Homo sapiens: one gene and its partners. The protein of the gene in region 1 purifies or fractionates together with the protein of each later gene. This does not show direct contact. Each region holds a gene or a part of one and is shown on either strand. Other genes may lie near its edges. The genes, in order: PRIMPOL, ABHD18 and ECI2.

Region 1 (8,275 bases):
ACACAAAGCTATAACGTAGAAAACACGAAGGAGATACAGTGCCACAGCCAGGGCATAACTGCAGCTATCAGTTGACGTTTCTTCTGTTCTTTTTTCTATGCGTATTAACTTACCAAAAAATCATTATTACATGGTGATCATAACACCTTGTATTATGTCTCCATAATCTATTCTGTTTTTTAACCGTGGAATATATCATACATACAAAAGTATAGATAACACACTTTTTTTTATTTTCTGAGATGGAATCTCACTCCGTTGCCCAGGCTGGAGTGCAGTGGCATGATCTCAGCTCACTGCAACCTCCGCTTCCTTGATTCAAGTGATTCTCCTGCCTTAGCCTCTCAAGTAGCTGGGATTACAAGTGTGTACTACCATGCCCGGTTAATTTTTGTAATTTTAGTAGAGACGGAGTTTCACTATGTTGGCTGGGCTGGTCTCAAACTCCTGACCTCAAGTGATCTGCCCGCCTTGGCCTCCCAAAGTGCTGGGATTACAGGTGTGAGCCACCGCACCCAGCCGATAACACACTTGTATACGCACATTTTAAAGACTAAAGTGACCACCTGTTGTATCTGCCGCCCACCTTAACAACCAGAAGCTGATCAAACCTCAGAAGCACCTGTGGGCCCAACCCCAATTTCCTTCTCTCCCTGGCCCTCAGAGATGGTAGCCAGTATCCCGATTTTGTGTTCATCTTTTCCTCGCTTTTATGATTTCTCCCATATACGTTCATATCTCTAAACAATATACTGTTTTCTTTTTCTTTTCTTTTGTTTTTTGAGACAGAGTTTTGCTCTTGTCGCCCAGGCTGGGGTGCAATCGCACGATCTCGGCTCACTGCAACCTCTGTCTCCCGGGTTCAAGCAATTCTCCGGCCTCAGCCTCCCGAGTAGCTGGGATTACAGGCATGCGCCACCATGCCCAGCTAATTTTTTGTATTTTTAGTAGAGACGGGGTTTCTGCATGTTGGTCTGGCTGGTCTCGAACTCCCGACCTCAGGTGATCTGCCTGCCTTGGCTTCCCAAAGTGCTGGGATTACAGGCATGAGCCACCGTGCCCGGCCATAAACAATATAGTGTTTTCTTTTGCTTGTTTTCGAATCGCATCCTCTCCCTTGCCTTGCGGTAGCATATCTGTGATTTTCACCCACGTTGCAGTATGTAGCTGTTGCTTATTTGTGTCACTATTGTGCAGCATGCCATGTGTATAAATATAAATAGGCCACAGTTTATCTGTTTTCCCACAGTGGACATTTGGGTTGCTATTATAAACCGTGAAGGTGGGAACCGTGTTGTACATATCACCTAGTATACATGTGCTAGAGTTTCTCAAAGTGGACTTGCTGTGTCGTGGAATATGCACATAATTAATTTTACTAGATCATAAATTGTTTTCCCAAATGGGTGTGCCAGTTTATAGTCCTGCCAGCAGTGTTTTGAGATTTTTCTACTGTTCCATATTCTCACCAACACTTTAGTATTGTTAGGATTAAAAAATTGGTTTTGCTCATCTGGCAGATGTAAAACAATATTGTAGTTTTCTTGGGAATTTCCCTGATTACTAATGAAGTTGAGGATGGATAATCAAATTACATCCACACAGATCAGAAATCTTGCCCAGTGTCAAGCTTTACTAATAATGTAGGAATACAAGGAATGAAAAGGCACAAATGGGGCAGAGTGAGGCCCGGGGCATCTGGCCCGGCTCCCCTGGCCCTTCCTGCTCTTTCTGACTCAGGAGGAAACCCGAGGCAGGCGTGAGCAATCCATGCACACAGCAGGAAGCACCGAGGTTGTGAATCACCTGCATTTTACACTCAAGTTGCACAGCTGGGTGACATTTCCGGAAAGCATGCCTCATAATGCATTGATTCTAGACTTTTTACCAAATGCAGTTCTAAAGTCAGAAACGTCCTACGAAGAGCATTCTGTAGGTAAGGACTGAACTCCTAGCGTTTGGTCCAGACGTTCCCCGATTTTCTTGGTTCATGGTTCCCCTGGTGTCTTTGTTTCTTCACATTTTCTCTGAGGCTGACAGAAATACCCGAGCTCTGGTAATGAATTTCAAACAACTTGGTAAGTGTTTATGTCCGAACAGTTTAGTAGCAGTTTGAATAATAGTATCCATAAACTAAAAAAAAAAGCCACTTTTCATTCTTAAATACAATTACTTATTAATGGGATGTATACTCTCCATTTTTTCATTTTTTTGAGACAGGGTCTCGCCCTGTCGCCCAGGCTTGAGTGCAGTGTGATGGCCCAGGCTTGAGGACAGAGTGCAGGAGCTCACTGCAGCCTTGATCTCCTGGGCTTGAGCGATCTTCCTGCTTCAGCCTCTCACGTAGTTTAGACTACAGGTGTGCCACCATGGCTGGTTAATTTTTAAATTTTTTGTAGGTGGGATCTCCCTCTCTTGCCCAGGTTGGCCTTGAACTCCAGCCTTCAAGCTATCCTCCCACCTCAGCCTCCCAAAATGCTGGAATTACAGGTGTGAACCACCTCACCAGGCCTATGTATGCACTCTTAAACCCTGGAATCAGATTAGACCCCACCCTCCCCAACTCATACCTTGTTCTCCATTGATGTTAATGGTGCTTTTTTTTTTTTTTTTTTTTTTTTGAGATGGAGTCTTGCTCTGTCACCCAGGCTGAAGTGCAGTGGTGCAATCTCGGCTCACTGCAACCTCTGCCTCCTGGCTTCAAGCAATTCTCCTGCCTCAGCCCCCCGAGTAGCTGGGATTACAGGTGCCCACCGCCACGCCTGGCTAATTTTTGTTGTATTTTTATTAGAGATGCGGTTTCACCATGTTGGCCAGGCTGGTCTCGAACTCCTGACCTTGTGATCCACCCACCTCGGCCTCCCAAAGTGCTGGGATTACAGGCGCGAGCCACCATGCCCGGCCTGATGTTAATGGTGCTTTCTATTACAACCACACCCCAAAGCCCAGCTCTACAAAGATGGAGCATGAATGAAAGGAATGAAGTCACATGTGAACTGCAGGCAAGGAGTTTTCAGATTGCTCAAGAAATGTCAAGTATCACTGTGTTTTCTAGCAGTATTTCAATATCCTGCAGTGCCCGGGGCACCTTCCTGTACAGTTTGGGAGCCACAGCATTATTAGCTCATTAATTGGGAGGCCTGTTACTAGAATGTTTAAGGGAAGATTAGACTAAGTCACCTGCCTTTTTTTGCTCCTGGGTGCAGGTCCCTTACCACCTCCCCATCCCACACCTCACCTACTGCCATGGGGAGTGTTAACCATCTTATTTCCTTTTCTGTAAAATGTGGGAACATTTTCAACTATTTAATCAAATCTTTAAGAATTTTAGTGATTATAGGATTGTTTAGGTTTTCTGTTGCTTTTTAAGTTTGCTTAGTTTATTTTTATGTAGTACTTTATTTTACAAAAACTTTCAAAGTTACTGGCAAAAGTTGTTCACAATATTGTTTTCTTAAAAACATATGATGCATTTAATTTCTAATAACATTTGTGTCTTTGCCTTATTTTTAAATCAATTTTACCCTAATTTCATTTTCTTCAAATGTAGGCCTCGTTGATTCTTTTTACTTTTGTCTCTTTATGACTGCCTGCCTTTTATTTATTTATTTACTTATTTATTTATTTAGAGACAGAGTCTCACACTGTCACCCGGGCTGGAGAGCAGTGGCACCAGCTTGGCTCACTGCAACCTCCGCCTCCCAGGTTCAAGTGATTCTCCTGCCTCAGCCTCCCAAGTAGCTGGGATTACAGGTGCCCCCCACCACGCCCAGCTAATTTTTGTATTTTCAGTATAGACGGGGTTTCACTATGTTGGCCAGGCTGGTCTCTTTATTCAGTTCGTTGTTTTCCACGTTAGTCACTTAATCCATGTATCTTTAGCTATTCTTCTTTCATAACACAAGATTTTAAGACTATAAATTACCCTCTAAAGGTGACTTTAGCTGCATTTCACATATTTTAATATGTACACTTCCAGTCCACTCAGGTCTAAGCGTTTTCTAATTTCCACTATTTTTCCTTGAACCATTGGTTGTTTCAAGTTGTTCTTAATTTCCAAATTATGGATTTCTATTAGTTTTATTTCTAAAATTTGCTTTATGCTCAGATGTGTTCTGTATGAAGTGATGATTTTAAATTTGATAAAATTCACTTTATAGCTAGCATGGAATTGGTTTTATAAAGAACTGCTTCATATTTACCTATTAGATCAAACTTCTTAATTGCTTTTTGTCATTCATTTTTTCTGTATCCTTATTGGACCTTTTTTGTGGTTATCCTTTGATCTATAAATTACTGAGAGTATGTTTTTTAAAAACCTTGATTTATGGTAGATTTGTTTATCATTGTGGTCCTGTCCATTTTTGCTCACATATTTTGCAGCTGTATTATTTGGTGAGTACAGGTTGAGAATTGTTACATCTTCCTGGGGGAACTTTCATCAGTATCTACTTTTTGCCCTGCAGTTCATTTTGTGTGATTTTTGGCAACCACCGTTTTGATTGGTATGTATCTATCCTTATCCTTTTACTTTTTAATTTTTCTCCATCTTTAAGTCTTAGGCATATTTCTTGGAACAGCATGCAGCTGGATTTTGTTTTCTACCCAGTCTTGGTATTAATACTTTTTTTTTTTTTTTAAACATAAAGGATTCTGGTTGATCTGAAAAATGAAGTTTGGTATCAAAAATGTCATGACCCTGTATGTAAAGCAGAAAACTTCAAATCTGACTGTAAGTTACTAATTTTTACATTTACCACAAAGTAAAAATTAGATAACTGTAATATGTAATAGTTTTGCTATCTTTCTGATTCAGGTTTCCCATTACCTGCTGAAGTATGTCTCCTGTTTCTTTTCAAAGAGGTAAGTACAGATTTTAGTGTCTTTCTCCTTACCAGGGAGTTCTTGGTACAATAGTATACCTGAGCCATGAGTAGTGTCCAAATAGCATTGAAACCCATTTGCTACCTTGTTTTCACTTATGACTGTATTATAGGAATATATTGTAGTGATTTTCCCATTTCAGCACATATCTGATAATACAAACCTTTTTTTTTTTTTTTTACTGCTGCTTGAGGTGTACAGTTTAATCAGTCCCAGACATTTAAGAAGTTTCCCATATTTTGCTTTTCAAAGTAACAAAATACCCATCTTTGTATTTCTTTGAACATCTGTATCTGTAGGATGAATTTCTAGAAGTAGAATTGTGTCAAAGGGCATATTCAGTTTTAATTTTGGTAGGTATTACCAGGTTGTCAAACCAACATTTTTCTCTTAAAGATTTTTTATTTACCCAAATAATTAACGTGCATTGTAGAATGAATTGAAAATACATAAAATTAGGTCAGGCACAGTGGCTCAGGCCTGTAATCCCAGCACTTTGAGAGGCTGAGGCAGGCAGATCACTTGAGGTCATGAGTTTGAGACCGGCCTGGCCAACATGGAGAAACCCCATCTCTACTAAAAACACAAAAATTAGCCAGGTGTGGTGGCCTATGCCTATAATCCCAGCTACTCAGGAGGCTGAGGCAGGAGAATCCCTTGAACCTGGGAGGTGGAGGTTGCAGTGAGCTGATATCACGCCATTACACTCCAGCCTGGGAGACAGAGCGACTCTGCCTCAAAAAAAAAAAAAAAAAAAAAAGAAAGAAAATACATAAAATTAGGAAATACACAAGAAGCAAAGAGGAAAGAATCTTCCTTACTCATTTGACCAGAAATAAATGATACACGTTTTGGCACGTACCTTCGAGAATTTATGTATGCTCATTTTCTTTTTTTTTGAAGTGATAGCACACATACTATTTCAGTTTTTTTTCTAAAGTATCACAAATATTTTTAGTACCTATTATCAAATTGCTCTCCATAAAAAGTATAGGATATTAGACCTCCACAGATAATTTATGAGAGCACCTATTACCTCACACTTTGCCAGCAGTGCTTGTTTACCTCGAATCACTACCAATCTGGTAGGCAAAATGCAGTACCTCAGTTGTTTTAATTTGCATCTCTGTAATGAACTTTTTTCGGATTCACTATTAGTATTTCTATAATGAAGTGCCTGTACCTGTCCTCTGTCCATTTTTCTGTAACTTTTTTGCAGTAATTAAGTACTGTTTTTGACGTATTTCACTTTTAAATTGTAGTTTGTGTTTTGTTTTTTGTCACATCTGTCAGCTTTCTCCTCTATAGTGTTAATAGAATAAAAGAAGTTACCTGCTACAAGCAGAACAGGTGATGGGGTTTATATTCTAGAAAACTCAGTCTTAACACGTCTCTCGAAAAAACTCCATATGTTTGAAATGGTGGAAATTCCATTCTTGGTCTGCAAGAACTGGACATAAAATAACTGATAGCCAGATTCTCTGGCAAAATACCAGGTTAAAATGTGTTTTGAAATAACCAAGAACAAAGTAAATTTTAAAAAATAAACTGTCTCCAAGAGGAGGAGGATTGCATCGCCCTTGTTAGTCTGGATTGTGATTTAGATATTCGTGGTTGCAGTGGATTTTTAAGCTACTTTTTCCGCTTATCTAGTAACACCTCAAAAATGCCAAGTTGAAAGTACCATTGGTCAGTATTACCACTACTTGGACATAACTTTTTAAAGTAAGATATATAATGAACACCCATGTAGCTGTCACTTAGTTTTCAGTTAACATTTTGCCTCTCCTGCTTCATCTTGTTTTTTAAAACAAATATTTTAAATTACCAGTTGGTGTTATTTATACCTGCTTTTCTATTGCACTGATATTTCATTGGTCACTTGATTTTAAATTTACTATAAAGGCCTAACCTACAGAAATGTACAAGAATAAGGAACTCTGCTGTCTGTCCTCTATTGAGATCTGCCATTTGTTAACACTTGGCCACATTGGTTTTCTCCCTCTACTGTATACATACGCATTATTTTTGATGACTCTCTTAAACTGCAGACATCAAAACCCTTCATCTAATATTTAAGCACGTAGCGGAAAGAATAAGACATTCTGTAGCTTTTTTAATGACAGGGGGGTATCATGTTGCCCGGGCTGGTCTCAAACTCCTGGCCTCAAGCAGTCCTCCCGTCTCAGCCTCCCCAGTAGCTGGGATTACAGGCACGTGCCACTGCACTGAATAAGGACATTCTTTACATAAATAATGTATTGGGCGGATCAACTAAATGTCTATACTGAAGACATTCTATGGTAAAATAATTGATACAATACTATTATGTAATATACAATCCAGTCATATTTTGGCAACTGTTTTTAATCTTTTTTCAATCCATGTTTACGATTTGCTAAATACTTTAAAATTTAAAGCATGGGTACTAAGTCCATTGTCAAGATAGCAAATTTATCTTCTGATTTGTCTTCAGCTGGACTGTCCACTTGTTAAAAAATTAAATCCACCCTTGCTCTTCCGTCGGGGAGTATTGAAAAGTATGTGCACAGAACTGTAGGTAATTTCAAATTTGGAGTTTCAAGTGTGTCTGAGCTTCAGTGCAGCAACGTTTGAATCAGTGCACTCATTCCCACGGTGAGATATCGGAGACAGCATTCCTCCTGCATATTCACTTTAGTATCTGTCACTTAATACCTTACTTCAACATAGAGTATAAGGTTAAATCACATATCCTGAGTAAATATTTTCCTATCCCACTCTCTATCCCTTCACCACTGAAATAAAGGAAGAAGAGTTTACAACAGATGAAGCAGATGAAACTAGGAGCAATGAAACCCAGAATCCTCATAAACCATCACCTAGCAGGCTGTCAACAGGTGCATCTGCTGATGCTGTCTGGGATAATGGCATTGATGATGCTTATTTTTTAGAAGCTACTGAAGATGCTGAATTAGCTGAAGCTGCAGAGAACAGTCTTCTCAGTTATAACAGTGAAGTGGATGAAATTCCTGATGAACTAATTATAGAAGTATTACAAGAGTAACTAATTCACTATGAACACTTTTGTCACCAGGCTATAATTTGCCTGATGTCTGTGAGATTTGATAAATATATCATTCAACCTGTTTATATAAACTAAGTTTTATTACTTTGCTTTCCAATTTTTGTTTTTTACTTCTGTAAACCAATTTCATTAAAAATTAGCTTTGGTGTAAATTCAGGAGAAATCGCCTTATTAATTAATCAAAATTATGTTCACATCAACTTAATTTTACAAGTTTATTATAGCTCATACCTGGGACCGATTAAGGTGTCAACATTTTAAAATTACTCAAGATATTAACCAGAAAAGATGATTATGGCCTTTAAAACTATTGGACAAACTGAT
Region 2 (8,275 bases), about 57 Mb from region 1:
TATATGTTGAATTTTTAAAAATCCTATACCTAGTCCCAGTTGATCCAAGCCTCATTATAGTGGTTCAAGCCAAAGAAGATGCCTATATTCCACGAACAGGAGTTCGAAGTTTACAAGAAATTTGGCCTGGTTGTGAAATCCGATACTTAGAAGGGGGTCATATTAGTGCTTATCTTTTTAAACAAGGACTCTTCAGGTAAGACGGCTGGTCTAAACATGTATTCGTTCATTTGTTGTTTGTTTTCTGGATTTTTTGCTTCAACAAATGTAAAAGATCACATATTTTTATAGTCTGTTTCAATCTTTGAATTCCCTCCTCACCTCCCACAAATCTCACAGAGTTACTTTTCCCTCTTTCCTAGAATTTGATCTTCTTATTTTCTTCTAGAGAACTAAGCATGATGCATATTATAGGCATGCTTTATCGTGTGGCTTTCCCCTCTTCAAATATTAATGGCCAGGTATTTTAGGATGTGAGAAGGAAGATCATGGCTTGTTAAAGTTGCTTTGGTGCATCAAGAGTTTTTTCACTCTATTCTGATGTTTTTTCAGAATGGCCTGAACATCTGTGGAATAATTTAGCAATGTTTTTCAGTTAGCAAGTGAATATTGAACCTTAAATAAGAAGTGCTTTTAATGTGAACAACCTTATATGACTCCACTATTTTAGTTAGAACTTATAAAAACTTTTATGCTGGCTGGGCGCGGTGGCTTACGCCTGTAATCCCAGCACTTTGGGAGGCGGAGGCGGGTGTATCACGAGGTCAGGAGATCAAGGCCATCCTGGCTAACACGGTGAAACCCCGTCTCTAGTAAAAATACAAAAAAAAAAAAAAAAAAGTAGCCGGGCATAGGTGGTGCATGTCTGTAGTCCCAGCTACTTGGGAAGCTGAGGCAGGAGAATGGCATAAAACCCGGGAGGCGGAGCTTGCAGTGAGCCGAGATCACGCCACTGCACTTCAGCCTGGGAGACAGAGCGAGACTCCGTCTCAAAAAAAAAAATTTTTTTATGCTAAAACTATAATTTTCTGGTATTCTGCATTATTGAAACATATTCCTCATGTTATTATTAATGATTAAGTAAATTGATTCACATAAATGGTTAGATCAGTGCCCTGTACATAAGTGTTAAAAAAAACTTCCAACTGGATAGCTATATAATAGAAGAATTGTATGTGATATGTTTGACATGTTTTAGCTCTTGTTAACGGAGGAAATAATTTTTCTATGTTGTTACTTATCTAGCCCAACTTATAAATGTCACCCTTTTTAGAAATAAACCAATTGTTCAAGTCTCTCATGTCTTGAAGGATATAGTAAACCTTTCTTTTTATAGTATGATCTTTTAAGAAGTATTCATGCAGCATTTGAGTCCCTATTGGTGAGTGAGCAGACTATCCAATACTCATTGGCCCTCTGGCACAACAAAATTAAAACAAATAAACAAAAATCCGTGACTACCTAGGGTTGCTAGGATTGCTTAAGAAGAGTCTAAAGTTCTGTTATACATGTGAACGCAGAGGACCCACATGCTTGCATTAGTAAATTAGTATCAAATTTCTTTCACTCTTTTGTGTATCTAAGTGGGAGTATAGCTAAGACGTATTAGGAAGAGTAGATTTATAATCAAAGTCAAATATAAAAACACAAAAGTGCTATTATGAAGGCTTCATTTGAGAGAGATAAATGTTAACTATTATCATGTGCCAGATGCTAGGGCAATTGCTCTGTTATTATCCCCTTTACACAGAATAAAGGGAACAAAAAAGATTAAGTAACTTGCTCAAGTGGAGTCACTACTAAGCTATTTGACCTCTTCCATTCCCCATCAGTCACTTCAAAACTTAACAGAGGTTAGATGACATTGGAATAGTAGAATTTTTAAAAATTCAGTCTTTTCACACACCAAACATAAAAATAAAAGAAGCCGCCAGGTGCGGTGGCTCACATCTGTAATCCCAGCACTTCAGGAGGCCAAGGCGGGTGGATCATGACATCAGGAGTTCGAGCCCAGCCTGGCCAATATGGTAAAACCCCGTCTCTACTAAAAATACAAAAATTAGCTGGGCGTGGTGGGCACGCACCTATAGTCCCAGCTACTCAGGAGGCTGAGGCAGGAGAACCGCTTGAACCTGGGAGGTGGAGGTTGCAGTGAGCTATCGCACCACTGCATTCCCCCTGGAGGCAGAGGTTGCAGTGAGCTGAGATCGCACCACTACATTCCAGCCTGGGTGACAGTGAGACTCTGTCTCAAAAAATGAATGAATGAATAAATAAAGCCATTCCTTTATGTGCTCTAATATTTTGTGTTATTTAGAGCTTATTGATAATACAGGTGAATAAGAGACTATTCACATGATTAAAAAGGGACATACATTACATGTACACAAGCCCGTATTGTAACTTTTGGCACCAGGAAGTAAACAAATTCAGATTCATTCCACAAGAGCAAGTGCCTGGAACTAACTCTGAGGAAAAAAATTATCCAGTGGGTGGGCCGGGCGTGGTGGCTCACGCCTGTAATCCCAGCACTTTGGGAGGCCGAGGCGGGTGGATCACGAGGCCAGGAGATCAAGACCATCCTGGCTAACATGGTGAAACCCTGTCTCTACTAAAAATAGAAAAAAATTAGCTGGGCGTGGTGGCGGGTGCCTGTAGTCCCAGCTACTGCAGAGGCTGAGGCAGGAGAATGGTGTGAACCCAGAGGTCAGAGCTTGCAGTGAGCCGAGATCGCACCACTGCACTCCAGCCTGGGTGACAGAGTGAGACTCTGTCTCAAAAAAAAAATTATCCAGTGGGCAATAATTTCAAAGCCCTCTTTACTTCTTCCCTATTGCTGTCATATCTGTCTTCAAAACAAAATCTCTTTATGTGTTTACACCAACATGCAAATATCCACCTCTAATTTTTTTCCCTTCTTATGGTTCATTATAATTCACAGGGAACAAGTACTTGAGCCAAAGAAAGACAAGCATGTTGTAAAACTATGACTTCCCAACATATTGGAAATAATAATCTATTAGCAGGCTATCAGTTTCAAAGATAGTCTTTTTTTTTTTTTTTTTTTTGTCTTTTTTGAGACAGAGTCTCCCTCTGTCACTCAGGCTGGAGTGCGGTGGCATGATCTTGGCTCACTGCAACCTCCACCTCCTGGGTTCACGGCATTCTCATGCCTCAGCCTCTGCAGTAGCTGGGACTACAGGCGCCCGCCACCACGCCCGGCTAATTTTTTTCTATTTTTAGTAGAGACGGGGTTTCACCATGTTAGCCAGGATGGTCTCGATCTCCTGACCTCGTGATCCGCCTGTCTCGGCCTCCCAAAGTTCTGGGATTACAGGCGTGAGCCACCGCACCCGGCTAAAGACAGTCTTAATAGCTGTGTTTGGATGTGAGGATATGGTTAGTTGAACAAGTGGGATACAAAATTAATATCTGATAGTTATTTAAACTGGGTGAAAATATAGACATGCATTTTCTTTTTTCTTTTTTTTTTTTTTTTTTGAGCTGGAGTCTTGCTTGTCACCTAGGCTGGAGTGCAGTGGCGCGATCTTGGCTCACTGCATCCTCCGCCTCCCAGGTTCAAGCAATTCTCCTGCCTCAGCCTCTCGAGTAGCTGGGATTACAGGCACCCACCACCACACCCGGCTAATGTTTGTATTCTTAGTAGAGATGGGGTTTCACCATGTTGGCCAGGCTGGTCTCGAACTCCTGACCTTGTGATCCGCCCTCCTTGGCCTTCCAAAGTGCTGGGATTACAGGCGTAAGCCACCGCGCCTGGCCTAGACATGCATTTTCTTAAAAGCCTGGAGGAAAGATATGAAAAGGTTAACAGTAGATGTGAGTGATGGGATTATGATGTTTTCCCCTTCCTATGTTTTGGATTTTCTGAATATTCTGCTATAAAAATGTATTATACAATAGGAAAAAAACAGCTTTAGAAAAAAATATGAGTGGGGCAGGGTGTCGCAGGACTGTAGTTCCAGATACTCAACAGGCTGAGGTGGGAAGATAGCTTGAGGCCAAGAGTTTGAGGCTGCAGCGTGCTATGATTGCACCTGAGAGTAACCACTGCACTCAAGCCTAGGCAACATAGTGAGATCTTGTCTCTAAAAAAAAAGAAAAAAGAAAAGAAAAAATATCTTATGGAAGATAAAATTTGTCTATTCCTTTTCTTTTTCTTTCTTTTTTTTTTGAAACAGAGTTTCGCTCTTGTTGCCCAGGTTGGAGTGCAATGGTGTGATCTCAGCTCACACAACCTCTGCCTCCCAGGTTCAAGCAATTCTCCTGCCTCAGCCTCCCGAGTAGCTGGGATTATAGGCATGTGCCACCACACCCGGCTAATTTTTTGTAATTTTAGTAGAGACGGGGTTTCTCCATGTTGATCAGGCTGGTCTCAAACTCCCGACTTCAGGTGATCCGCCTGCCTCGGCCTCCCAAAGTGCTGGGATTACAGGCTTGAGCCATCGCGCCCGGCCTGTCTATTCCTTTTCAATTGAAATATTAAAATACTTGGTAAAGTTAATGTGAGAAACCAAGGCTTTTGATTTTAAGTAGCTAGGAACATGTTCATAGTAAATGAAAAACATCTATATCATAATCTGTGAAACAGAATCTTACATTCTGAAAAGTTACATAATTAATTTTCAACGAAGCGATAAGACAATAAATCAGTTCCTTTTTCTTTCATAATTTATTTTATACACATTACACACATGTGCCTCTGTGTGCGTGCGTGTATGTATGAATATATATATTCTAAGGCACAAAAAGTGCTTCAGAAAAAGATAATGCTTTTAGATCCCTCATAAATTGGAAGTATATTTGAGGTTTTCCGGTAGTGGTGGTAAAGTTGCATGCATCTGAGGCAGGCGGATCACTTGAGGCCAGGAGTTCGAGACCAGCCTAGCCAACATGGTGATACCCCGTCTCTACTAAAAATACAAAAAATTAGCAGGGTGAGGTGGTGCATGCCTGTAATTCTAGCTACTTGGGAGGCTGAGGCATGAGAATCACTTGAACCGGGAGGCAGAGGTTGCAGTGAGCAGAGATCATGCCACTGCAGTCCAGCCTGGGCGACAGAGCGAGACCCTGTCTCAAAAGAAAAAAAAAAGTTACATGGATTCAAACACCCATTCTGGGGAGGGTAACTGCCTATTTCATAGCTATTTAGAGAGGATGTCAAGTTGCAAGCCACAGATAAATTTGGAAATAACTTACAGTAAAGGCATTGTTTGTCCCCCCTTTTTGTTAGTTACTTAGAGTTTTTCTTTCATATTTAATTTTAGACAAGCCATCTATGATGCATTTGACCGCTTCCTCCATAAATACGCTAACTAGTTGGATTATTATATGTAACCAGTGTGGCCATGATGTTTCTTACAAAAGGGAGCTTCATCCTGTGATCATGTGAAGGACAAGCAGACAGCACTAATATATCTAATCGCTATCAATTTGGTCTGGAATTCATTGTTACACATCAGTTAACTATAAACTTCGAATACATTTGAATAATTTCAAGATAATATTTGAAGTAAATAATGTTAAAGTGTTTTTACTATTGTTTATTGGAATCCCATATATTCAGTGTTTAGTCTGTTGTTACTGTTTATGAAAAACTAAATTTTTAATCATGAATAATTTATTAAATTAAATAAATTTATTCATAGAAACTTTTCTGGGTTTTAGTAAAATTGCTAAATCAAACCAAGATTTTAATATATCAGCATTTACTTTGTACCCTTATAACATTTCACTCTTGACTTGATTTGAGAAACATGTTTATTTTTTGAATGTTCTTGTGTTCAACTAATTTTCTGCTGTGGAAATAAATACTTATGATATATAAAATCAGTGTTAACTTTGAATTCTAAAATATCCTGATAGCTTCATAGATAAGTGCTTTTCTTTTTCTTTTTTTTTTCTTTTAACATGTACCTCTACTTGAATGTAAGTGCTTTTAATAATCAAAGTGAGTGGCAGGGTGCGGTGGCTCACGCCTGTAATCCCAGCACTGGGATGCTGAAGCGGGCAGATTACCTGAGGTTGGGAGTTCAAGACCAGCCTGACCAATATAGAGAAACCCCCTCTCTACTACAAATACAAAAAATTAGCCAAGCATGGTGGCGCATGCCTATAATCCCAGATACTCAGGAGGCAGAGGCAGGAGAATCGCTTGAACCCGGGAGGCAGAGGTTGCGGTGATCCGAGATCACACCATTGCACTCCAGCCTGGGCAACAAGAGTGAAACTCCGTCTCAAAATAATAATAATAACCAAAATGAGTGTTCTGCAGATAAAATGCATTAGACTTTGCTAGACTAAAACTTTACTAAAGATTAGGGTTTTTAAAAAATGCCAATAGGCCGGGTGCAGTGGCTCATGCCTGTAATCCCAGCACTTTGGGACGCTCAGGCGGGCGGATCACAAGGTCAGGAGTTTAAGACCAGCCTGGCCAACATGGTGAAACCCCATGTCTACTAAAAGTACAAAAAAATTAGCCGGGCATTGTGGCGTGTGCCTGTAATCCCAGCTACTCAGGAGGCTGAGGCAGGAGAATTGGTTGAACCAAGGAGGCGGAGGTTGCACTGAGCTGAGATTGCGCCACTGCACTCCAGCCTGGGCAACAGAGCAAAACTCCATCTCAAAAAAAAAAAAAAAAAAAAAAAAAAATTAAGCCGGGCATGGTGGCAGGCACCTGTAATCCCAGCTACTCGGGAGGCTGAGGCAGGAGAATTGCTTGAACCCGGGAGGCAGAAGTTGCAGTGAGCGGAGATCGCACCACTGCACTCCAGCCTAGGAGAAGGAGCAAGACTCTGTCTCAAAACAAAACAAAATGCCAAACTTATTTCTCCCTACTAAAAAGTTTCAATTCACAAAAATGGAAACATTGGAAGACCTGTTGCATTAACTGACGGAGTGCAGTGGCATGATCTTGGCTCACTGCGACCTCCGCCTCTCAGGTTCAAGCGGTTCTCCTGCCTCCACCTGAGTAGCTGAGATTACAGGTGCCCGCCACCATGCCTGGCTAATTTTTGTATTTTTAATAGACACGAGGTTTCACCATGTTGGCCAAGCTGGTCTCGAATTCCTGACCTCAAGTGATATGCCTGCCTTGGCCTCCCAAAGTGCTGGGATTATAGGTTTGAGCCACCACACCCGACCTGACATTTTATTTTTATTTTTTTAATTACATTTTTCTATATGCTTATTCTTTGGATTGCTAACCATCTAACTACCCAAATACTTAACAGCCTTGGCTTTTAATTTCAAAATTTAATAGACACATATGCAATTGATTTGTCCCATATAAACTTTATTTTACAGAAAATATTTAAAGTTTTATGTAATAGCTATTAACTCTCTTAAATGGGGTTTATATGGCTCGATTTGGTGCTTTCTTTTTATGTTAAACTTCTCTAGCTGTCAGCTAAAATGTTAAAAAAGTCGAAAATATTTTAGGGTATTGTGTGAAGTTTTACAGTAGGTATTTTTGAGTTTTGTTTGAAATCTGTGTTGTCTGTGAATTATTTTTAAATAGGGATTCTTAGTCTACTAACGATATTTGAATTATAATGTGCCTTTGCAGTCTTTTTAAAGGAGATTTCATTTGTCACCTCTATGCCTCTATCATCTTAATTTTTTACAAATATTTAAAAATTATTAATGTGAAGTTATTGATGGTAGACAAAGTAGTAACTTCTTTCAAACTACTTTGGCATAACAAGCCAACACTGTACAGCTCTTTGAGCTATAAGCAATTTTACATGTTCAGATGAGAACCTTTAGTTTTAACCAAAAGTATAACATCTACTAAAGTTCTTCCACAAAATACTTTTTAAAATAAAACTTGTCAACTGAATTACGATTTTCTTATATTATGTATATAGTGAGGTTATATGATTGAATGCTTTTTGAACAATGGTTTTAGTAAAACAAATACTTTATTATTGTTCACATAAACATTTCTTACTAAGCAATAATGTACTATGTTGTGTGAATTTCTATTGTTAAAAAAATGAAATGTTGATTTAGTTTTAATTCTTAGGCATAACTAACTTTTCTCAAATAAAGTGTGAAAGAAAGTATTTTTAAAATTTCATCTCTTAACCAGATGTTTTAAGAATATATCCCTAGGCCGGGTGCAGTGGCTCACACCTGTAATCCCAGCACTTTGGGAGGCCGAGGTGGGGGGACCACCTGAGGTTGGGAGTTCGAGACTAGCCTGACCAATATGGAGAAACCCCATCTCTATTAAAAATACAAAATTTTTAAAAAA
Region 3 (8,275 bases), on another chromosome or scaffold:
AAACTGCCTCCATCCATAGGTGGGCATTCATTCTTTCTCTTTGACCTCTGTTACCTGTTCATCCTGCTGGTCTCATGAGATTTGACTGGAAAACATAAAAGTGAGCTATAGTTGTAAACAAAATTATCTTGCACTGAGGCAGAGGAATTTAGCAAATTCTCATCCAGCCAGAGGAATGGGAGATTTCCATGAACGCTGAAGGTAGGAGACTCGGAGGAGTCTTGTAAACACAGGAGGAGGTCATGAAGGCTTTTCTCTTTATTCCTGCCAAATCTGTAATTCCCACTTGTTGTGATATTGCAGCATGTGCTCAGTCACCCAACCTAATCTCTAAGACTGCGGCTGGTTTACAGCCCTGAACTCACTGTCCAGAATACAAGATTCAAACCAGGGTTGACCCATAGGTCTCACTGGTTGGTCTTCCATCCACTGCCATTCAGACGGATGCCCTGGATGAATCTGGTGCGGAAGACCAGGGAAGTGGCAGGACAAGGAGGCACTGCTGGTGGTGGCTGTGGAAACACCCAGCCTGACAGAAGGCTTTATCTCAGAGTCAGACTGTCTTGCCCATGCTTTAGTCATGCTGCTTTGGCACATTTAATGATTTTGTGTTTCCATTTCTGTAGGGAATTTGTGGGCTGTTTTATAGATTTTCCTAAGCCTCTGATTGCAGTGGTCAATGGTCCAGCTGTGGGCATCTCCGTCACCCTCCTTGGGCTATTCGATGCCGTGTATGCATCTGACAGGGTAAGTCAGCTCCTAGAAAGCAAGAGGTCAGGCAAGCAGCGCGAGATGAGAGCCTTTGAATCCTCCTTCAGCGTTGCCAGTCATAAGCAGGTTACATGTTGTTTGTGGTAGAATTAACTGAATTTAGATTTTTCCCAAAGCATTAGGCTGATTTGACTGATTTTATTTTTCCTTCATTATTAACTTGCATTTTGTTGTGAACATTGTTCCAACTCTGACTGTTCCGGATTCTAATCAAATTCCACAATAGGTATACAGCTTTCATGTTATTCTGAAAGATTCAGGAGACACTTGAAAATTTGTTATGGGAGGGAGGAATAGCATCTTTGCAGGTTGTGCAAGGGATTAGTTGATCCTTTTTACTGAGTAAATGGATTTAGAATTTTAGAAGGAGAAGGACCTGTGAGCATTATCTACTGTCACTCCCTCCTTTGCAGATAAGAAAACTGAAGCTCTGAGAAGTTCCTTGCCCAGAACACAATTCAGCCTTGTGTTCACCATTGCATTATACAGATTTTAGTTTTTATTTTTACTACAGTAGTAATATATATGTCATAGTGGAAAATAAAATTTTGAAAGATATGAAAAAGTACCAAGAAAAGCTACAAGGTAAAAATCACTCCTTATCTTGCCACCTAGAGATAACCAGTCCTAACGTTTGGGTTATTAACTTATCTTGTTTAACCAGTCCCTGACTGCTGGAACCCTAGGCTGTTTCCAATTTTTATCATTACAAGCACCTAATAACCACCTTTAGGGTATCAGATTGTCCAGTGACTTATGCTTATGTGATGGTAAACTGTGCTGATGATTGCAGCCTTCTAGGGAGCATATGGTTTTTACCACTGAAGAGATTTCTAGTTTTGTTCAGAGGTATTTTCCCCACTGATAGACAGGACCATATAATAGCATCCTTAATTCTTCGAATTTTCTTTTGCTGGATTCCATTGAACCAGATTGGATGTATTGACAGACCTAATTCTTATGAATAATTTTCCCACAAAATTAGCAAATGAGATTCTAGGTGCCAGGCTGCCCAGCCTTTGTAGGTAGAGGTTTCTGTTCAAAGGCAGAAATCAATGTCTTTGTTCACAGTCTGTGTATTAGATGACTGATTAGTCATTGACCTGCTTTTAACAGGGACTGGGTCAATGGTTCCTGACCTAAAATTGGGGATCTCATTCTTTAATACTTGGAGGGCAAATATTGTATTTGAATCTTGTTCTGATTCTCCCACTGAATTGAAAATTACTTTCAATATACATCATCCTTATTTTTTTTTTTTTAAGAGATGGGAGTCTCACTCTGTCACCCAAGCTGGAATGCAGTGGCACGATCTTGGCTCACTGCAGCCACCACCTCCCGGGTTCAAGCGATTCTCCCACTCAGCCTCCTGAGTAGTACAGGTGCGTGCCACCACATCGAGCTAATTTTTTTGTATTTTTAGTAGAGACAGGGTTTCACTGTGTCGGCCAGGCTGGTCTCGAACTCCTGACCTCAAGTGATTCGCCTGCGTTGGCCTCCTGAAGTGCTGGGAGTACAGGTGTGAGCCACTGAGCCTGGCCTGCATCAACCTTTTAAAAATGTTGATGACTTCCATCTTATGATATAAATTGTAATAAATGTTGAAATCAGAAAACATATATACATAATACATATAAAACATATCTATTCTATATATATTATAATATATGTATATTGCATATATATATTAAATGCTAAAAAATTTGGCCAAAAGTAAAATTTATTTGTCAAATAGTGTCTTCTGATAAAAGTTTACCCAACCAAACAAATCAAGCATCATTTAAAATAAAGGAAATTGAGGTGGGCAGATCACCTGAGGTCAGGAGTTCAAGACCAGCCTGGCCAACATGGTGAAACACCATCTCTACTAAAAATATAAAAATTAGCCGGGCTTGGTGGCGGGTGTCTGTAATCCCAGCTACATTGGAGGCTGAGGCAGGAGAATTGCTTGAACCCAGGAGGTAGAGGTTGCAGTGAGCCGAGATCGTACCACTGCACTCCAGCCTAGGTGACAGAGCGAGACTCTGTCTCAAAAAAATATATAAGTAAAAAATAAATAAAATAAAGGAAATATGCTAAAGGAAAAGGCTGTAGAAAAAATTGTTTTATAAGATTTACCATTATTGGCTTCAAGAATAAATATCATATTAAATGATGGGTTAATATTTAACCCATATAACCAAAATATTAATCAGTACATTTAATCTATTTTATACTGTGGGCAATGGTTAATAATGCCTATTAGCTCTGTCAGCAAATGATACATTTCCTGTATGAGTTAAGAAAAAGGTAGAAATCATAACAATAATAAATCTTTGAGTGGTCACTGTTTAGGCACTCTATTCACATGCATTATGTATATTATAAATATACGCATACACACACACATATTCACGTAATGTACAGAGTAGCCCGATGAAAGAAGGACTTGGCCAGGCACAGTGGCTCACGCCTCTAATCCTGGCACTTTGGGAGGCCAGGGCAAGTGGATCACCTGAGGTCGGGAGTTCAAGACCAGCCTGGCCAATGTGGTGAAACCCCTTCTCTACTAAAAATACAAAAATTAGCCAGGTGTGGTGGCAGGCGCCTGTAGTCCCAGCTACTTGGTAGGCTGAGGCAAGAGTAAGGCTGGGCAACAGAGTGAGACCCTGTCTATAAAAACAAACATTCTCCTCCAATGTGGCAAAAATAAGTTTTACAATCTAGGCTGGGCATGGTGGCTCATGCCTGTAATCTTAGCACTTTGGGAGGCCAAGGCAGGTGGATCACTTGAGGTCAGGAATTCGAGACCAGCCTGGCCAACATGGTGAAGCCCCGTCTCTACTAAAAATACAAAAATGAGCTGGGTGTGGTGGTGCACGCCTATAATCCCAACTGCTCGGGAGGCTGAGGCAGGAGAATCGCTTGAACCCGGGAGGCGGAGGTTGCAGCGAGTTGAGATTGCGCCACTGCACTCAAGGCTGGGCAACCGAGCAAGACTCCGTCTCAAAAAAAAAAAAAAGCAAAGAAGGATTGGTTCCCATTTTACAAATGAGAAAACTGTGGTACAGAGAGGGTAAGAAACTTTCCCAACGTCCCTAAGTAGTCTGACGCCAGAGCCTAAACCCTTAACTCCACCTGCTGCTCTCTTTCTGAAAATCAGCATTTTAAATGCTGCTTACTGGCAACTTTGCATGTACCTGTTTGTGTCCCTTTAGCTGTTGTTGGCAGGTTTCTCAGTTTCCTGCTTGTATTCCTTAGGCTGTGTCTTCTGGGTACATTTTTTTGAATAAGTTTTCTTTTGGATAAAAAAAGAAGATACATGACATTAACAGAAACTTTTAAAAATATTGTGATTATTTTTATGTATATGCTGCATATGTTATAGATTTATATCTTCTAACAGTTATATAGTAAAAACAACAGCGTGTCTGATTATAGGAAATGAAATCTAAATATTCTTTTACATATTATGAATTTTAAATTAACATTCTTTCATAATTTATTCATTAAGAAACACAAAAATATGTCTTAAATGTAAAAAAAAAAAAAACTAAAAATGACTATATACTAAATAACCAATATTGAATTAATTCCAGTAGTTAAAGCCAACCAAAAAAACCACTGGGGCAAAATCAAGACAAATGACAGATTGAGGAAACAATTTTTCAACTCATGTAACAAAAGCTGATCTCTCCACGATACTTTTTAAAGTTTGTCTATAAAGCGATAGATCCACAAGCTAAAATAAAAATGGGCAATGGTGAGGAATGAATAGGTCAGACAAAATGAAATATAAAGGGCTATTAAAACCATATGAGAGAAACCACTGAGAAAATGAAAAGATAAGCCATAGACCAGGAGAAAAGATTTGCCTGACGCTCTAATAAAAGACTTGCAATCTGAATGTGTATCTTACAACTATATAATAGGAAGGTAAACAGCCTAACTTAAAAAAATAGTGGAGAAAATATCTTAACAGTTGCTTCACCAAAGAAAATATACGTATGTCTAATAAGTACATGGTAAGAGACTTAATACCATTAATGGTTAGGGACATGTAAATTAAAACCACAGTGAGACCCCACTACATACATACTAGCATGGTTAAAATGAAAAAGACTTAATAGCTAGGTTTAGTGAGGATGTGGAGCAATTGGAACTTTCATACATTGCTGGTGGGAATGTCAAATGGTACAACCACTCTAGAAAACAGTCTAGCAGCTTCTGAGCTAAATATACATTTACCACACAGACCAGCCATACCACTTAGGTATTTACCTATGATAATTTAAAAGAGATTCACCCAGTGACCTGTACACAAGTGTTCCTAACTGCCTTTTTGTTAACATTATCTGAACATTTTTATTTTTAAATTTTTTTTCAGTTTCATTGAGGTATACTTGACAAATAAGAATTGTACAGTCAGGTGCTGCATAACAACATTTTAGTCAATGGCAGACTGCATGTAAAACGCTGGTCTCCTAAGATTATAACACCATATCTTACTATACCTTTTCTTTTTTTTTTTTCACTCTGTCATCCAGGCTGGAGTACAGTGGCATGATCTCGGCTCACTGCAGCCTCCTCCTCCCGGGTTCAAGCAATTCTTGTGCCTCAGCCTCCCGAGTAGCTGGGACTCCAGGTGCACACCACCACACCAGGCTAATTTTTGTATTTTTAGTAGAGATGGGGTTTCACTACGTTGGCCAGGCTGGTCTCGAACTGCTGACCTCAGGTGATTTGCCCACCTCTGCCTCCCAAAGTGTTGGGATTACAGGCATGAGCCACCACACCCGGCCTACCTTTTCTATGTTTGATATATTTAGATACACAAATGCCATTTGTTATAACTGCCTAGAGTATTAAGTATAGTAACATGCTGTCCAAGTTGGTAGCCTGGAAGCAGTAGGGATTACCACATAGCTAGGTGTGCAGTAGGCTGTGGCATCCAAGTATATGTAAGTATACTCCATGATATTGGCACAATGACAAAATTGCCTAATTATGCATTTCTCAGAACATATCCCCATTGTTAAGCAACACACGACTAGATATATTTAAGGTGTTCAACTTGTTTTTCATAGCAGCCTTCTTCATAGTAGCCTTTCATACGTTGCTAGTGGCAGTGTCAAATGGTACAACCATTTGAATGCTAGAAACAACACCAATGGCATTAACTGGTGAATGATAAACATATTATTGTGCATCCATACAAAGGAATACTACTCAGAAATAGCGAGGAACAAACTACTAATACATACAACAGCATGGTGACTCTCAGAAGTCAGACTCAAAATGCTACAGAATGTAGGATTCCACTTATACAGCATTCTATAAAAGTCAAAACTGTAGGGACAGAAAACAGATTAGCAGTTGCTTGGGGGTGGGAGGGAGGGACTGACTACAGAAGGGCCCCCGGAACCTTTCAGGGTGGCTGAAATGTTCCGCATGTCAGTAGTGGTGGTGGCTATGTAACTCTCTATTTGTTCAAACTCATCCAACTATACACTTTTAAAGGGTGAATTGTGTGTGCATATTAACCACATAATCTTAATTTTTAAATAAATATTATTAAGTATTGTGAAGTTATAAGCAAATCGTGATTTTTAAAAATAACACATGAAGCCAGGCATGGTGGCTCACGCCTGTGATCCTAGCACTTTGGGAGGCCGAGGCAGGTGGATCACCTGAGGTAAGAAGTTTGAAACCAACCTGGCCAACAGGGCGAAACCCCGTCTCTACGAAAAATACAAAAATTAGCCAGGCATGGCAGCGCATGCCTGTAATCGTAGCTGCTGTGGAGGCTGAGGCAGGAGAATCGCTTGAACCCAAGGGGTGGAGGTTGCAGTGAGCCGAGATCGCGCCACTTCACTGCAGCCTGGGCAAAAGAGCGAAACCCTTTGTCTCAAAAAAAAAAAAAAAAATCACACATGAAAAGATGGTTTTCTTTTCTCTCCTGCCTCTGCAGGCAACATTTCATACACCATTTAGTCACCTAGGCCAAAGTCCGGAAGGATGCTCCTCTTACACTTTTCCGAAGATAATGAGCCCAGCCAAGGTAACTTTTGGAATGTTTAAATATAAAATTTTATGAGTCATCTCAAGAAAGAAGGAAGAGTAATCTCATATACTCTCCCTTCTTTCCCTTGGTAATATGGACAAAAGAGAAGCTAATGATTTGCTTTTCAACTCTTTAAGAGTTTTACCAATGGAGGAATCAGGCTATGGGAAGTATCTGCTATGCAGGAAAATTAGAAATTCTCTCTGCAGTTCCCAGAACTGGGATCCTCCTCTTCAGCTGGCTGCTTAGTGCTAGCTGCACTGCAAGCAGCACAGCACCTCAGCCTTGCAGCTGTGTGGCATTAGTCACTTGAAGGACCAGGGCTGTGCCAGCCTCCCTTGGTCCCCTGAGTTTGGAGGCCACTCGGTTCCTTTATGGATGACCAGTATCTCCTAAGGAGAGACATGATGACGTCTTCACTTTCAGAGTTACAGTAAGTACCAACAGATGGGAGGTTTTGTGGGGGCTCACGGCTGCCAGAGCCACCCCCAATCACAGCAGCCCTTCCATCAGCCTGCTCACGGGTGTATTCTCTCCCAGGCTGGTTAAGTGGCTGCTCAGGTCTTTCACTGTGTTTCCTAGTTGCCCACGCCCTGTGGCATGACTCGAAGGGGATTGTGACAAGACCAGAAGCTGAGCTATAGGAAAAGGCTTAGCAAATATTGCTGCAAGATCTCAAAGTGGGGCAGTGGGAATTGAGCTTGTTTTCATTGCCTATTAGGATTTTGTTAAAAACTTATATATGTATGTTTTTACTCTCATTAGGCTATCACATACCCTGAATTGAACTTGGGAAGGGGGCAGAACTGACTCTACAAGTCTTAGAGCATTTGGCTATTAGAGCATTCCTTGGCTGGGTGCAGTGGCTCACACCTGTAATCCCAGCACTTTGGGAGGCCAAGGCTGGTGGATCACTTGAGATCAGGAGTTCAAGACCAGCCGGGCCAACATAGTGAAATGCTGTCTCTACTAAAAATACAAAAATTAGCCGGGGCATGGTGGCGGGCACCTGTAATCCCAGCTACTCAAGAGGCTGAGGCAGGAGAATCATTTGAACCCAGGAGGTGGAGGTTACAGTGAGCCAAGATCGTGCCTCTGCACTCCAGCCTGGGCAGCACAGTGAGACTCTGTCTCAAAAAAAAGAAGAGCATTCCTTTTCTGGAAAAGAAATTGCAAATGGAGAGAGGATATCCACTTAATGTCCTCAGTTTTTTCGGAAGCTAACTATAAGTCTTTGCTTTCCTTTAGTCAAATAGAACTAATTTGAGTACCAATGCAGGTAAAGAAAACTCTCAGAGCCAGATCACTGGGTAGTTTCCAGAGAATGGAATTTTGAAAGTTTCTAAAGGTTGACCCAATGACCGTAATTTTTCTCTCCTTTTTTCCTCTGTAAAATAATAGTTTATAGTGTATCAAATGGAAAATCATAGCTGCTGTGGGTTATAGAATCAAGCATCTGCT

Evidence for each region.
Region 2: the proteins of PRIMPOL (region 1) and ABHD18 purify together in Homo sapiens (affinity purification with mass spectrometry; 2 studies listed by BioGRID and IntAct, with this or other methods). This does not show direct contact.
Region 3: the proteins of PRIMPOL (region 1) and ECI2 purify together in Homo sapiens (affinity purification with mass spectrometry; 2 studies listed by BioGRID and IntAct, with this or other methods). This does not show direct contact.

What each region holds. Positions count from the first base shown.
Region 1 is NC_000004.12:184,686,850-184,695,124, forward strand, and holds the end of PRIMPOL (DNA-directed primase/polymerase protein), read left to right. Parts: intron 1-4,466; coding exon of another isoform or gene 4,467-4,505; intron 4,506-4,649; coding exon 4,650-4,732; intron 4,733-4,816; coding exon 4,817-4,863; intron 4,864-7,235; exon of another isoform or gene 7,236-7,360; coding exon of another isoform or gene 7,361-7,444; exon of another isoform or gene 7,445-7,672; coding exon 7,673-7,930; 3' UTR 7,931-8,103; downstream 8,104-8,275. UniProt on the Homo sapiens protein: DNA primase and DNA polymerase required to tolerate replication-stalling lesions by bypassing them.
Region 2 is NC_000004.12:128,030,477-128,038,751, forward strand, and holds part of ABHD18 (protein ABHD18), read left to right. Parts: intron 1-33; coding exon 34-196; coding exon of another isoform or gene 197-200; exon of another isoform or gene 201-1,300; intron 1,301-5,285; coding exon 5,286-5,337; 3' UTR 5,338-8,275.
Region 3 is NC_000006.12:4,117,722-4,125,996, reverse strand, and holds part of ECI2 (enoyl-CoA delta isomerase 2), read left to right. Parts: exon of another isoform or gene 1-626; coding exon 627-747; exon of another isoform or gene 748-1,037; intron 1,038-3,950; exon of another isoform or gene 3,951-4,048; intron 4,049-6,721; coding exon 6,722-6,811; intron 6,812-8,275. UniProt on the Homo sapiens protein: Able to isomerize both 3-cis and 3-trans double bonds into the 2-trans form in a range of enoyl-CoA species. Has a preference for 3-trans substrates.